Linked DNA regions of Homo sapiens. The protein of the gene in region 2 interacts with the protein of the main gene of each other region in a pairwise test. Each region holds a gene or a part of one and is shown on either strand. Other genes may lie near its edges.

Region 1 (7,366 bases), on a different chromosome or scaffold from region 2:
TATACAACAGTTAGCCCTCCAGAAATGTGGTCAACATGCAATCATATAACTTAGGCCATTCTTTCTTAAAAAATTAACAGAAAATAAGTGTTTTAGAAATAATTAGATAAAAGTATTTTAATAAAGTAAGTTAGGTAAGTAGACCTCTGCCAAAAATAGAACCAAAAGCAGCAGGAGAGTAGGGTTTGCTTAAAGCCAAACTGTTTGCCCACATTATGAAAATGCCAATGGAATGTGCTAGGACTATGGGGCTAATATGGGTTTGGGGTAGGTGGCATCATGACTATAAGACTGCCCAGAAAGAGGTACTGAGTGAGAAAGTGGAGGCAGGAAGGGCAGGGAAGAGACAAAGAACATAAGGTTTTTGTTTTTGAAATATGTAAACATGTAAAATCAAGCAACTACGCTTGAGAATGTTTTGGGCAATGCAGACCTGTAGCTTTGCATGCTAATTGGCCAAGGCAGTGTGGGTAAGGCATCATGTATCTGCATGGCCACTTTGCTTCCACTGCCTGGAAGGAAGTTCACTCTCCTGTGTCCTGTGGAAACAAAGCTGGGACTGGAGTGATCCAGGCATTTCAAGTGGGGCTTAGAAAAGGGCATAAAATGAATAATATGTACCTAACATCACAGCTTTCAATAGCTATCTCCCAAGAATAAAAAACAAAGAATTCTTAGATTAGCTAATAAAAATACCTCTCCTTATAAAACAGATTGATGTGAAGATGATAACTACATTTTAACAATGGGGCATCCATTTGGAAAAAACCTAGTAAGAAAGTATAATACATTTCTGACAACCTACCTCCATGAAATATTTGTTCCAATCCCACATGGAATAGAGCTTCCACCAAGGTACACCGGACTGCAACTAGATGTGTTCAACAGATGCAAAAATATGAAGTTATAACAAAAAATAGGAGAAGTTAATTTGGCCATGTTAAAAAAATTTTTGGTTTTATTGACTTTATGTTCTTGTAATCAAATTGTCTATTTTCCCTAGCAAGCCAACCATTTCAAAGAAGAGATATTTATTGTAGGATCACTGCTTTATTGGATATAACCTGTACATTCAGGAACACTCAAGGAATTAAAATGAGTAAAAGAAAAATGTGTTTGCCAAATAATGTAAGGGACAAAGTAAATACTGAAGAATATAACAGAACATTAATTTTGAGAAACTGTTCACACTTTTTTTAAATGGCAGAAAATTATTTACAATAGCAATAATCCCCCATTTAATTTCCTTTACACAAAGGGGGTCACAGACCATAAGAACACTGAAGATATTGCTATTGGTCTTTCTCCTGAAGGCCAACCAATGCTTTGTTGTTCAATGTCACTGCTGTTTAAATGGTAACAAAATCTACTAGACTATGCTCATAGTGTTTGCTCAATAGTGTGTATAATTCACCAAAGCAATCTCAACTTACCTTTTACCAAGGCCTTCAATGGAAGCTCTGACAGATGTGTTACCTGAAGATTTAGATTTTAATTTCTGTTAAAAAAGCAAAACAATAAAAGGCCATGAGTAACTTAGAAAACTGTAACATGAAAACTAATATTCCTTATAACAAGAATATTTTCTAAATGACTTAAATACAAATTTTCATGGCATCATTTTTAAGTTTCTGAAATAAAAACAATGATCAAAACCTTTTAAAGGCAAAAGGGAAGTAGAACTCCCTAAGGAATGTGCAAATTACTCTACTAACTTTTAGGCTAGGAAACTGATATATTGCCATTATTAGCATGCTAAGATTTAGAGTCACTTTATAACTCTTCAGTTAATATTACAGTTCAATGATTTAATATGAAGGACCTGCTATTTAAAACTTCATTCTAGAAAAATTCAATTGAGGAGGAAAAAAACCTCAGACTCATTTTTAAAGGCTGTGAATGTGCGTCATATGAATTAAAATTAACCAAGCTCCTGTGTAACTTCAGGAATATTAATTTTGATCAAATGGAATGGCATCAACCAATAAATGTGCAAGGAAAATGTAGAACTACCTAGTCACAACCATACAGTAGTTCCTATATGGTTACATAGTATCATCATCATTAGCAAGCATTTATTAAGTGTTAACTGGTATATGGTACCAAACAACATAAACCAACCACACACTAGGACCACCGCCAAGGAGAGGAAGTGAGATGGAGAAAAGGCAATTTAAACTATGCAGAGACATGCCTTCATTTTACATAGTGGGTGAGGAAATTTAATAGAGGCGAAAATATTGTTTTACTATGTCTCTCAACTCTTATTTGATGTTAAGCAGAAATGGAAAAAATTTTGGTACATGTTTGAAAAATAATAATATGCACGAATCTTTCTGTTTGGGGAGCATGTTTCATGTGCCATCCAGACTCAGGCTTATGACTCTAAGCTGGCACACTCTGAGGTTTGTTGTTGGTTCCTGGGCTTTCTTGTGTGGGTCTGGGAACAGTTCAGAAATGCGACAGAATGGGAGAGCAGGAGGTGCGGTAAGGGAGTAGTATTGTCAGGGCATAATATAGCCTCTAATGACAACGTTGGCATAGACTATCTGTTTATCTATGTTTCTTTTGTTAATACATGTTTTTTTTTCCCAATAAATGTTTTACTTAGACCTGCTGTCTCCTTTGAAGGTTGGAAAACTGGACATAATACATAACTAAAAAAGGAAAAGATCATGATTAAAAATTTACTTCTTCATGATTATAAGAGCTACTTTTATTTCAAATTAGTATATCTTAAAGCCAAACCAGAGAAGTACTTATCTTCTTCTGAAACACCTTAACTGAAAAGATAGCGCCTCATATACAGATATGCACCCTATTGGTACTTAATAAACAATGAATTGCTCAGATGATTAATGAAGAGCAACAAAATGATGTAATTTTTTTCTACCATTAATTAGTACTACTAATTGGCATTACTATTCAGTGCTTATGCACTTACTCAGTATTTAGGAAGTATTCTATTTGCAGGGTACAGGTGACCCTTGAACAACATGCGTTTCAACTGCACAAGTCCACTTATATGTGGAATTTTTCCAACCAAACAAGGATCAAAAATACAGTATTTGTGGCATGCGAAACCCCACGTACAGAGGGCCAACTTTTCATAAGGTGGGTTCTGTAAGGCTGACTGTGGAACTTGAGTATGTATGGATTTTGGTATATGTGGGGGTCCTGGAACCAATCCCTTGAGTATACCAAGGAATGACTGTATTTAATATTGCTATTGTGTTTACATATTATTCAACTTGGCATGTGCTTATTAATTTACTTCAGGTGAATTGAAAAAGTTTAATTTTCTAAAATCTATACTAGTCACTTGATTTTTAGTCTGGGTGACAAAAATGTAAGTGGTCCCTATCCATATTCTTACCACAACCATTACCTAGGTATTTTCAGTCCACTGTTTTGCTTTTATCTTCCCTATCCTTTAAAAAACAAAACCCTGGTACTATAGTTATTTCTTAAATTTTTTTGTGATCTTTGTAAATTAGACTTCTATTTTTGTATCTTTCTTTTAAATCTAACAGATAATGCTTGACACACACCATACTGATAAAAATTAAAATACATAAATTCTCATATACTGCCCAGTATGAAAAATGTTAAGTGATAAAGTCACTTTGGAAAACAATTTGGCAATGGGTAGAAAAGTTGAAGATGAGCACACCTTATGACCTAGGAATTCCTCTTCTAGCTTTATACACCCTAGAGAAACTTCCGTATATGGGTAAAAGAAGCCATGTAAAGATATCTAATGAAGGCGTAATCACTGGTTTTCCCTGTGTACATGTCAAAATTTGTATGCCTTTTCTCCGATTAAAAAAAAGGTATCTGATGAAGCACTATTTGTAATAGCAAACAACTGAGCACAATCTAAATGTCCATCATCAGGGAAGTGGATAAACTGTGGCAGAGTTATACAATGGACTACTGTACACAGTTAGAATTGTTTATGGTTATGTACATATGTAATGAAAGTATAAATGTATGGATGGAAAGGATAAATGGTTATCTTTGGGAAGGAAGGCAATAGAATAGGATTTAGAGAGGTCTTAAACTATATCTTTAATTTGTACTTCTTTTTAAAAAAAAAGGTCCAGTAAAGCAAATGTGGCAAAACATTAATATATGTTTAATATGGGTGGCTGTCATGGTATGTTCAGTATATAGGTTGCTGTTATATTACTTTCTGAACTTTTTATGCAGCTAAAATAGACATACAAACATTTAAAAAACTGAAATATTAACAATTTAGTCATTGCTTCATGGGATAAGAGCAATGGCATTGCATGTGAGGTGCTAAGCACATTCCTACAATGAAAGCTGTTTGTTTTTGGCCTTTTAGAAAAGTGTCCTTAGATACTACAAATAAATACAAGTGACCAGCTTGATGTGTGAGTTGACTTCTATGCTAACAGCTTTTCTAATTTGTTATTCTTACTGAGAAATGCACAGGGAAACACATACTGAGAGTTTCTGATATTTTACTGCTTCTACTGCTCTTTAAGTGTAATAATTTCTTTAAGTAATTGTATTTCTCAGAATTCAAAAGATAATGGGTAGCTACTTGTGTCATCTTTAAGACTATTCTAAACATGTCTTGAAATAATGACAGAATTACTACATATTTATAACACTTGACTTACAGAGGGTTTTTTGTCCAAGTTGGGCTCTTCAAGTATTTCATTAATAAGACTGTCAAGATCATCTTCTTTTTTAAATGTTTCTGTTGATCTGAAAAGAAGACATACACAAAGAAAACTTACCTGAGGTTTATGAGCAGAGAAAGCTAGTATCAGAAGAGTTTTGCTTAAAGTCCATTATTAGAGCTGATAATAGAAAGATAAAAGTGATTTTAATTTTTTTCACTGTGGATATAGTCTAAGTTTGTTGAGACAAAGATATACTTTATCAGGTACAAATTCACATATGTTCTATACTATTACATACTTGATATTACATACTTCAGACATTTACAGCTATATACATTATATTCAAGAGGAAGCTGGGTATGTACTTATCTGAATTACATAAAGCATGTATTTAATACAAAATATGTGCAATAAGCAGAACCTGATATTATAAACAAAGATAATTTTAACGAGTCTTCCTGACTTTTCCCCTAAAGGTTGCATTGTAAGTCAACCATACCTCTTTACTAGAGGGGCCGAAGGTCATGTAATCAAATGACCACCTCCACCCCAAAAAAAGGTGCTATTTGTTAGACAGAATATCTCAACTACTCAACTACCTCTACCTTCTGCAGGCAAAGCCATCACTGGATTATTAATATAAACCACTACTGCATAGAACTTCTATTTAATAGCTGATGCTAAATAGCTAATAACTAAATAGTAAGTATTTACTGAATACTTACTATAACCCAGGCATTGTCCTTAGTCTTTACATGAGTATATCTTTATTTAACCCCAGTTTTATAGATGAAGAAAAGGCACTGAGAGATTCAGAAATCTGTTCAAGGTCATATAAGTAGTGGGAGAAAAGGCTTGGAATTGAATCTAGGGCAGTCCGTGCACTTAATACTATACAAGATTAACTTTCTTTAGCGTTTGTATGAAGTAGATGCTGTACATCAACTTTATAACTTCATTAAATTATTTGTTTTAGAAGACAAGTTTTTTAGTCAAACTCTCTAATTTCAGAAATGTATTTACTCTGACAATTTTTAACATAGGCCTTCTTCATTACATCTTGGAGTAAAATAATTTAACCTGATATAAGAAAAGCAAGAGACGGCTGCCTACTACCTAATGGTTGATTCTGTCTCCAGGCTTAGCCTCTTCAGTTGTACTGTAACTTTTACCCTTAATGTCTTTCACTGTATACTGGTTTCTTCCTTTGACTTAGAGGTATGCTCAAGGCTTGCTTCTTCAAAGAGACACTTCAAAAAACCCCTGTCTTGAAGCTGCCACCCTTTCTTACTCACTACTGAAGAATAGTCTATATCCACGATTTCTACTTCCTTACAAGTAGACTAGATTTAGAATCAGTTGGGTGCTAATCCTAGGCGGGGGTTTCTCAGCCTTGGAATTATGGACATTTTGGGTCAGATAATTCTCTGGGGTGTGTATGTGGGGGCAGGAGACTGTTGTATATTGCAGGACATTTTACAGCATCTACCCACTAGATGCTATTAAATAATAGCACACCCTTCCCCAGGTGCGACAATAAAAAATGTCTCCAGACATTGCCAAATGCCCCTTGGGTGGCAAAATCATCACCAGTCTAGAGATACCGACTTAGTTTAAATTATTTAATCTCTCTGAAACTCAAATATTTTATCTATAAAAATGATATCTAGATGACTATTTAAAATTTCTTTCAGGTATAATATTCTACTTCTGGCCTCTAATCCCTCAACTATAGTGAAACTCTTCTCTCGAAGGTTTCCACTGCCCAAATCACTACAATCTAATGGTGGTTCTCAGTTCCAATCCTCTTTAATCTTTCAGAAGCATCTGACACTGTTGGGTACCAATTCCTTATATTTCTTTTTCGATAAGAGGTTGCTAAGATGTCCTCTTAAAATTCTCTCCTTTGGCTTTCAGGACATACTTTCCGGGTTCTCCTCCCTCATGCAATTTCACAATTTCAAGAATCAGATACATCCAAACTCCACCAACCTAATCAGTACTGTTACAGATCCAAATTACCAGCTTACATAAGATTCTGGTCTGTTCTTAGATCACACAATTTCAAAATGCCTACACTTGCCTATGCTTTGCTATAGTAATAACAATAAAGTCAACATTTCATTGAGAACTCATAATTTTAAAGGACTGTATAAGACTCTTTTTGGTCTTTTGATGTGACAATAATCTCAATCAAATGTTAATAAGCTTTTACTGGTTCCCTTTCTGACTCTGTTTCTGACATTCTAATCTTTTAAAGATATAGTTTCTGCTGAAAATAAAACATATATTTAAGATAAAATATAAACACTTAAACCTATAATTAAATGTGAGAGGTATTATATAGAAAGCTTAAATCTAGATCTACTATGTCCTTGTGATTTAGCAATATGACTTTAGGCAAGTAACTAAGCATTGATTTGGTCAATGAAATGGGGATAACAGTATTCACGCATGGGATTGTGAAGATTAAATGAAATAACATATACAAAGCACTTAGCATACAGAAAGAGCTCAATAAATGTTGGCTGTTATTATAGTTATCATCTAGAAAGCTATATTATCTTTAAATATTCCCATCTGTATCATCCTGAACCACTTTATTCCTATTGCAGTTCTTCTCAACCCACATCAGTCTTTTTTAATTTTTTTACTAATCACATATTTCTTTTTATCATTTTGAACACTTCAACAAATTGCATGTTTTG
Region 2 (7,366 bases):
CAGACAAGGCCATCCTTATACTATACTCTAATTTAGGGTAATAGACCTGGCAAAGCCCAAAGGGTGACATGACTTCTGGCAGCGCCTGGTCAGTGGTGAAGGCAAAGCAAAAGGCCAGAGGGCCCCACCTGCATGATGCTGTTGAGGCGGGGCTGGAGGCTGCTCAGGTACTCCTTCTTCACCTCAATCTCCTTGAGAATCTTCTCCTTGTTAGATAGGCACTCTCGGTACTTCTCTGCCAGCCTGTTGGGGGAGGAAAGAGCATTGTCACCTGATATCCCCCAGTGATACCTCAACATGCCTGTTCACTGTCAGACTCCACCTAATAGTAGCAGCCATGATTAACTGCCAATGTTTATCCAGCACTCAATGTGTGCCAGGTACTTTGGTGAGCTCTTTAAAAGCATAATTACATTTAATACTTATAAAGACCCTGGAAGACAGGGACTTTGCTTATCCCCAAAGGAGGAAACCAAGGCTCAGGCAAGTAGATAACTTGCCCAAGGGCATCCAGCTAAGAACAAACACTGCGCTAGGCTTTGGATCCATGTCTCTTGCTCTCCAGAGGCTCTGTCTGCTCTGTAACCACTAGGGAATACACATGCCATCTTCTGCTCCATTTCTTGCTTGAGAGGTAAGACCTAAAACTTTCACAAACATGGACTTAGCAGCTATATAACCCAAAAGAGGCCCATGGACTGGCCTGGTTAGCACAGGGTGGGAACAGATTCTGGACCAGTGCCACAAGAATGCAGCACTGATGGCTGAGTCAGTGCCCAGCACAATCAGTGGACTGGACAGCGGAGTGACAGGTCAGCCCCATCTGCTAAGACACTGACACAAATTTCCTAAGAACCAGACTCGGCCGGGAATGGTGGCTCATGCCTGTAATTCCAGCACTTTGGGAGGCCCAGGCAGGCGGATCACCTGAGGTCAAGAGTTCGAGACCAGCCTGGCCAACATGGTGAAACCCGTCTCTACTAAAATACAAAAATTAGCTGGGCACAGTGACATGCGCCTGTAATCCCAGCTACTCAGGAGGCTGAGACAGGAGAATCGCTTAAACTGGGGAGGCGGAGGTGAAACCCCCAACTCTATTAAAAATACAAAAATTGGCCGGGCACAGTGGCTCACGCCTGTAATCCCAACACTTTGGGAAGCCGAGGCAGGTGAATCACGAGGTCAAGAGGTAGAGACCATCCTGGCCAACATGGTGAAACCCCGCTTCTACTAAAAATACAAAAATTAGCTGGGCGTGGTGGCACACGCCTTGTAGTCCCAGCTTCTCAGGAGGCTGAGGCAGGAGAATTGGTTGAACCAGGGAGGTGGAGGTTGCAGCAAGCCGAGATCACACCATTGCATTCCAGCCTGGGCGACAAGAGTGAAACTCTGTGTCAAAAAAATAAATAAATAAATAGATAAATAAATAAATAAACCTCTTTATTCATATAGAAAAGTTTATACCTAAAGTGTGACTTGAAGCATTATTTATTTATTTATTTTTTGAGACGGAGTCTCATTCTGTCGCCCAGGCTAGAGTGCAGTGGCGCAATCTCGGCTCACTGCAACCTCTGCCTCCCGGCTTCACGCCATTCTCCTGCCTCAGCCTCCTGAGTAGCTGGGACTACAGGCACCCGCCACCATGCCCGGCTAATTTTTTATATTTTTAGTAGAGACGGGGTTTCACCATGTTAGCCAGGATGGTCTCGATCTCCTGACCTTGTGATCCGCCTGCCTTGGCCTCCCAAAGTGCTGGGATTACAGACGTGAGCCACCTCGCCTGGCTGAAGCATTATTTATGACAGCAAAAAATGGAAACAACCTAAAATCCAACAGGGGAATAATTTTGTGCATTTTTCTATACACCAGAATATACACTAGAATGTTGCACAACCTCCTGAAATAGTGTTTACAAAGCTTTCTGCCATAGGCATACACTTACAGATAAGGGGAAAGGCAAATACAAAATTAGATTTATGGTACAAAAGATAAGGTCTTCGGCATTAAAATTTCAAGGAGAGACCAGGCATGGTAACTCACACCTGTAATCCCAGCACTTTGGGAGGCCAAGGTGGGAGGATCACTTGAAGCCAGGAATTCAAGACCAGCCTGGGTAACAGAGTGAGAACCCTGCTCTACAAAAATAAAAATATTAGCCAGGCATGGTGGCAGGCACCCATAGTCCTGGCTACTTGGGAGGCTGAGGCAGAAGGATCGCTTGAGCCCAGGAGGTCAAGGCTGAAGTGAGTCGTGATAGTGCCACAGCACTCCATCCTGAGCAATAGAGTGAAACGCCATCTCTTTGGAAAAAAAAAAAAAAAAAAAAAAAAAAGGGCCAGGCACAGTGGCTCACGTCTGTAATCCCAGCACTTTGGGAAGCCAAGGCAGGCAGATCACTTGAGGTCAGGAGTTTGAGATCAGCCTAGCCAACATGGTGAAACCCCATCTCTACAAAAAATACAAATAATAGATGGGCGTGGTGGTGCACACCTACCACCCAGCTACTCGGGAGGCTGAGGACTGAGAATCACTTGAACCTGGGAGGCAGAGGTTGCAGTGAACTGAGATCACACCACCGCACTCCAGCCTGGGAGACAGAGTGAGACTCCATCTCAAAAAAAAAAAAAAAAAAAAAACCCTTAAGCAATTATAACCCCAACCCCATCCATGATGAGGTTGGTGAAGTTTAAACTATCCAGTGTGATTTAATCATAAAATGGGATTTGGTCTTAGAAACTATTCTGAGAGTTGCACAGTGTTTTGCTGCCTTATCCTGGGTCATGACAAAGCACTGACACTTTGTGGTTAAAAGGTCAGGAAGGAGGAAATGCTACCTTTTCCGCTGCTCCAGCTCCCAGTCCAGACGTGCCAGTGTTTGCTGGTGAGGGTCTCCCATGGTGACTTCGGCCTTGCTGATATCTGGTGGAGCCTCCTTATAAAACTCCTCTAAACTGACCAGATCAATTTCTTCATGCTTTGACCTACAGACAAAAACATGACATCAAGCTGCTGTTCTCAGGAAACTAAACTGTAGTTTAAGCAGGCCCAAAGTTATCCCCAACATATGCCTGCTTAGTCCTGGTCTACAGGATCCTGGAATCCAGTCTTCTCCACAAATGCTCATTAGCAGATATTTCAGTGTGAAGAAAGGTAGTTGGTGACATGCCATAGGATCCTTATCCATGCTGTCCAACCTTTTTACCCATGAATTAAAGACTCGGAAGGGATTCTTATCAAATTTACAAATGTCTCCAAGCTGAGCAGGAGAACTACTAGCTAAAAAGTCAAGTAAAAACACTACAGCCTGGGCCTAGGCTGTAGGGTTGAAAGCAAGACATAATTTAACAGGAATAAATACAAGGGTCTGCACTTAAGTTCAAGACATTAGCCGCGTAAGAACAGAATGAGGAAGATCCAGCATGGGAGAACTGGATGGAAAAAGATCTAGAGGCTTAAACCGTTGCATGCATAGTGATTTATATGTATAAAAGAAAAGAAATTCTGCCAGGCGCGGTGGCTCACCCCTGTAATCCCAGCACCTTGGGAGGCCAAGGCAGGTGGATTACCTGAGGTCAGGAGTTCGAGACCAGCCTGATCAACAAGGTGAAACCCCGTCTCTACTAAAAATTAGCTGGGCGTGGTGACGCATGCCTGTAATCCCAGCTACTTAGGAGGCTGAGGCAGGAGAATCGCTCGAACCCAGGAGGCAGAGGTTGCGGTGAGCCAGGATTGCGCCATTGCACTCCAGCCTGGGAGACAGAGCGAGACTCCATCTCAAAAAAATCCAACCCTCTTTGCTGTATTAACATAGTTGACTGCTCAGGTTATGGTCAGATGACAGTAATGATAACGGCAGCTATCATATATTAATAAGCACCCACTATATGTCATCCTCACCTCATTTAAGCCTCACAACAACTCTAAGAGGTGGGGAGTTTTAATCTCCATTTTTTGACTGAGATGGAGGCTTCTATCAGTAAGCAGCTTGCCCAAGGTCCACAGCTAGGGAGTGGCCAAGCTGGGATTTGAACCCAGGCTGTGTAACTTCAAGGCCTATGCTCCTTCCATGTGGCCGTCTGCCTCCCAACAGGCGCAAGTTCCACTGTATTCTGGGTTTGTCAGTTTCCATTTGGGTGATGATTACAGACCAGTGCATCACATTATTTTGTTTTTGATACCTTTTTAATTTGGAAATAGTTTAAGACTCCAAGAAGTTTCAAAAATAATACTTAGAATGTATTTCCTCCATGTACCCTTCACCCAATGATACTATCTTATCTAACCACATTATACATTGTCAAAACCAGGAACTGACACTGGTACAATATTATTAACTCAAGTACAGACCTGATGCAGATTTCACCTCTATTCATATTTAACTATTGTTATGTGACGATTTTGTGGAACAGATAAAGATGCCTCTCAAAAATCAGCATCAGGGCTGGGCACAGTGGCTCATGCCTGTAATTCTAGCACTTTGGGAGGTCGAAATGGGTGCATCATCTGAAGTCAGGAGTTTGAGACCAGCCTGGCCAACATGGTGAAACCCTGTCTTTACTAAAAATACGAAAATTAGCTGGGTGTGGTGGCTCATGCATGCAATCGCTTGAACCCAGGAGGCAGAGGTTGCAATGAGCCAAGATCACGCCACCACACTCCAGCCTGGGCAACAGAGCGAGACTTTATCTTTAAAAAAAAAAGAAAAGAAAAGAAAAGAAAAAAATCAGCATCAGGCCAGGCTTGGTGGCTTACACCTTTAATCTTACCCTTTTGGGAGGCCAAGGCAGGTGGATCATTTGCAACCAGGAGTTTGAGACTAGCCCAGCATGGCAAAACCCTATCACTACTAAAAATACAAAAAATTAGCCAGGCATGGTGGTGCATGCCAATAGTCCCAGCTACTCAGGAGGCTGAAATGGGAGGATCATCTGAGCCAAGTCAAGTCAAGGCTGCAGTGAGCCAGGATTGTGCCACCACACCAGCCTGGGTGACAGGAGTGAGACCCTGTCTCAAAAAAAAAAAAAAAAAAAGACAAAAAACAAAACAATCAATCAGTATCATGATTATTAAAAATATTCCGGACCCACCGGGTGTGGTGGCTCACGCCTGTAATCCCAGCACTTTGGGAGGCTGAGGCAGGCGGATCATAAGATCAGGAGATCGAGACCATCCTGGCTAACACGGTGAAACCCTGTCTCTACTAAAAACACGAAATATTAGCCGGGCGTGGTGGCAAGCGCCTGTAGTCCCAGCTACTCGGGAGGCTGAGGCAGGAGAATGGCGTGAACCCGGGAGGCGGAGCTTGCAGTGAGCCGAGATCACGCCACTGCACTCCAGCCTGGGCGACAGAGCAAGACTCCATCTCCAAAAAAAAAAAAAAAAAAAAAAAAAAAAAAAAATATATATATATATATATATATATATATATCCTGGACCCAATGTCTAATAGGGCCCCTGCATATGTCAAGTTTGTTACAGATAAAAGCTGCTTTCAGTTTGCATAAACAGGTCTGATCAAGTGAGAACACTTCCCCTTCTCTTCCCGTTTACTCCTTCCTCCTTCTCATCTCTCAGCTTGGTTTTGAGGAAGGACACTGACAAACTGTAGTTTCTTCACCTGAAGGCAGCTAAGCAGCAAGAAATTCAGGTTCCAAAGAATAAAATCCATTTGCAGAAATGAACTGCTGGGACTACAGAAAGGAAAACTGGGCCAAAAGGTTAAAAGAATGTGACTGGAAGTGAGTTGCTCCCATACAACATGCCCAGAAATCAAACTGGTAATGTAAAGACCCCTGATAGGGAGAGAGACCTGCTTTTTACCAAGTGCAGAGCTCAAAACTCAAAAAGGTCAGAGAGACTTCTGAGGTTCTTTATGCAGCCTGAAATCACGGCTTGCAATTCTCCCACATTCACCCTTGCAATTTGCCCTTCTCCCAGATCCTACAGTTTTCTAAGCTCATCAGATTTCTTTTTAAAGAGAGACTTAGGCTGGGAGCGGTGGCTCACGCCTGTAATCCCAGCACTTTGGGAGGCCGAGGCGGGAGGACCACCTGAGGTCAGGAGTTCGAGAACAGCCTGGCCAACATGGCAAAACCCCGTCTCTACTAAAAATACAAAAATTAGCTGGATGTGGAGGTGGGCGCCTGCAATCCCAGCTACTCAGAAGGCTGAGGCAGGAGAATTGCTTGAACCCGGGAGGTGGAGGTTGCAGTGAGCTGAGATTGCGCCACTGCACTCCAGCCTGGGTGACAGGGCAAGACTCCGTCTCAAAAAAAAAAAAGAAACAGACTTACAGTGAGCTACATGGGAAAAAGCAGTTACCGAAAGACCACATGTGCCAAAGCCCTGTCCTCCCAAACTCACTTAAACTCCAAACATTTGGTGATCTCCTTCTGTAGGTGCATCACCTCATACAACAGGTTCTGGAGCTGCAGATGATAGGCATCTACTTTCTGCTTAGCCTGAAAGGAAAATACGATCAGAAGTGAGCAGGGCAAGTCAGGATGGAGCAGAGGAGAGGGTCAGCAAACTAAGAGAAGGTGTAAAGGGAATAAAGAAGGGGATGGGGCTGGGTGCAGTGGCTCACGCCTGTAATCCCAGCACTTTGGGAGGCCGAGGCGAGTGGATCACCTGAGCTCAGGAGTTCAAGACAAGCCTGGCCAACAAGGTGAAACCCCATCTCTACTAAAAAATACAAAAATTAGCCAGGCATGGTGGTGGGAGGTGCCTGTAATCCCAGCTACTTAGGAGGCTGAGGCAGGAGAATCGCTTGAAGCTGGGAGGCAGAGGATGTGGTGAGCTGAGATCGTGCCACTGCACTCTAGCCTGGGGGACAGAACGAGACTCTGTCTCAAAAAAAAAAAAAAAAAAAAAAAAAGAAGGGGATGGGGAGGAGGAAGGAGGAAGGTTAAAATTAAACCTTTTAACTACTACCTCGTGGGTCTGATCTCTTCCTTTCTTCAACCTGATGTGGGCTAATCGGTTAAGCTTCTTTAGAGTCATGAAATGCACACAGCTCTGGATCCTCCGTTCTTCTATTTCTATTGCCTGTGGGCAAAGAAAACAGTAAAGCCCACTGACGACAGGGCTAGCTCAGCTTCCTTCAGTCCTTCACCACTGACCCATCCTCATCTGGGGCCAAAAACGGCACCGGAGGGAGCTCAGAACCATGAGAAGGGTCATGAAGAAAATAAGAGGATGATTGTATAAGGAAAATGATTAAGAATCTCGGGCAAAAAAAAGTAATTTCTGCTTGGACTAGAGTAACAGGAATTGAAGATGGAATAAGGGCAGCAAAGGCACAATCTATCTCTACAGATCCTACACAGAGATCCCAGCAATAGTAACATCTTGTCATAAAATTTGA

What was found.
Region 1: the proteins of THOC5 (region 2) and CFAP418 interact in a two-hybrid assay, tested with the Homo sapiens proteins (one study listed by IntAct).

What each region holds. Positions count from the first base shown.
Region 1 is NC_000008.11:95,259,035-95,266,400, forward strand, and holds part of CFAP418 (cilia- and flagella-associated protein 418), read right to left. Parts: intron 4,741-7,366; coding exon 4,653-4,740; intron 1,499-4,652; coding exon 1,434-1,498; intron 872-1,433; coding exon 806-871; intron 1-805. UniProt on the Homo sapiens protein: May be involved in photoreceptor outer segment disk morphogenesis.
Region 2 is NC_000022.11:29,536,496-29,543,861, forward strand, and holds part of THOC5 (THO complex subunit 5), read right to left. Parts: intron 7,048-7,366; coding exon 6,934-7,047; intron 6,462-6,933; coding exon 6,364-6,461; intron 2,982-6,363; coding exon 2,835-2,981; intron 244-2,834; coding exon 129-243; intron 1-128. UniProt on the Homo sapiens protein: Component of the THO subcomplex of the TREX complex which is thought to couple mRNA transcription, processing and nuclear export, and which specifically associates with spliced mRNA and not with unspliced pre-mRNA.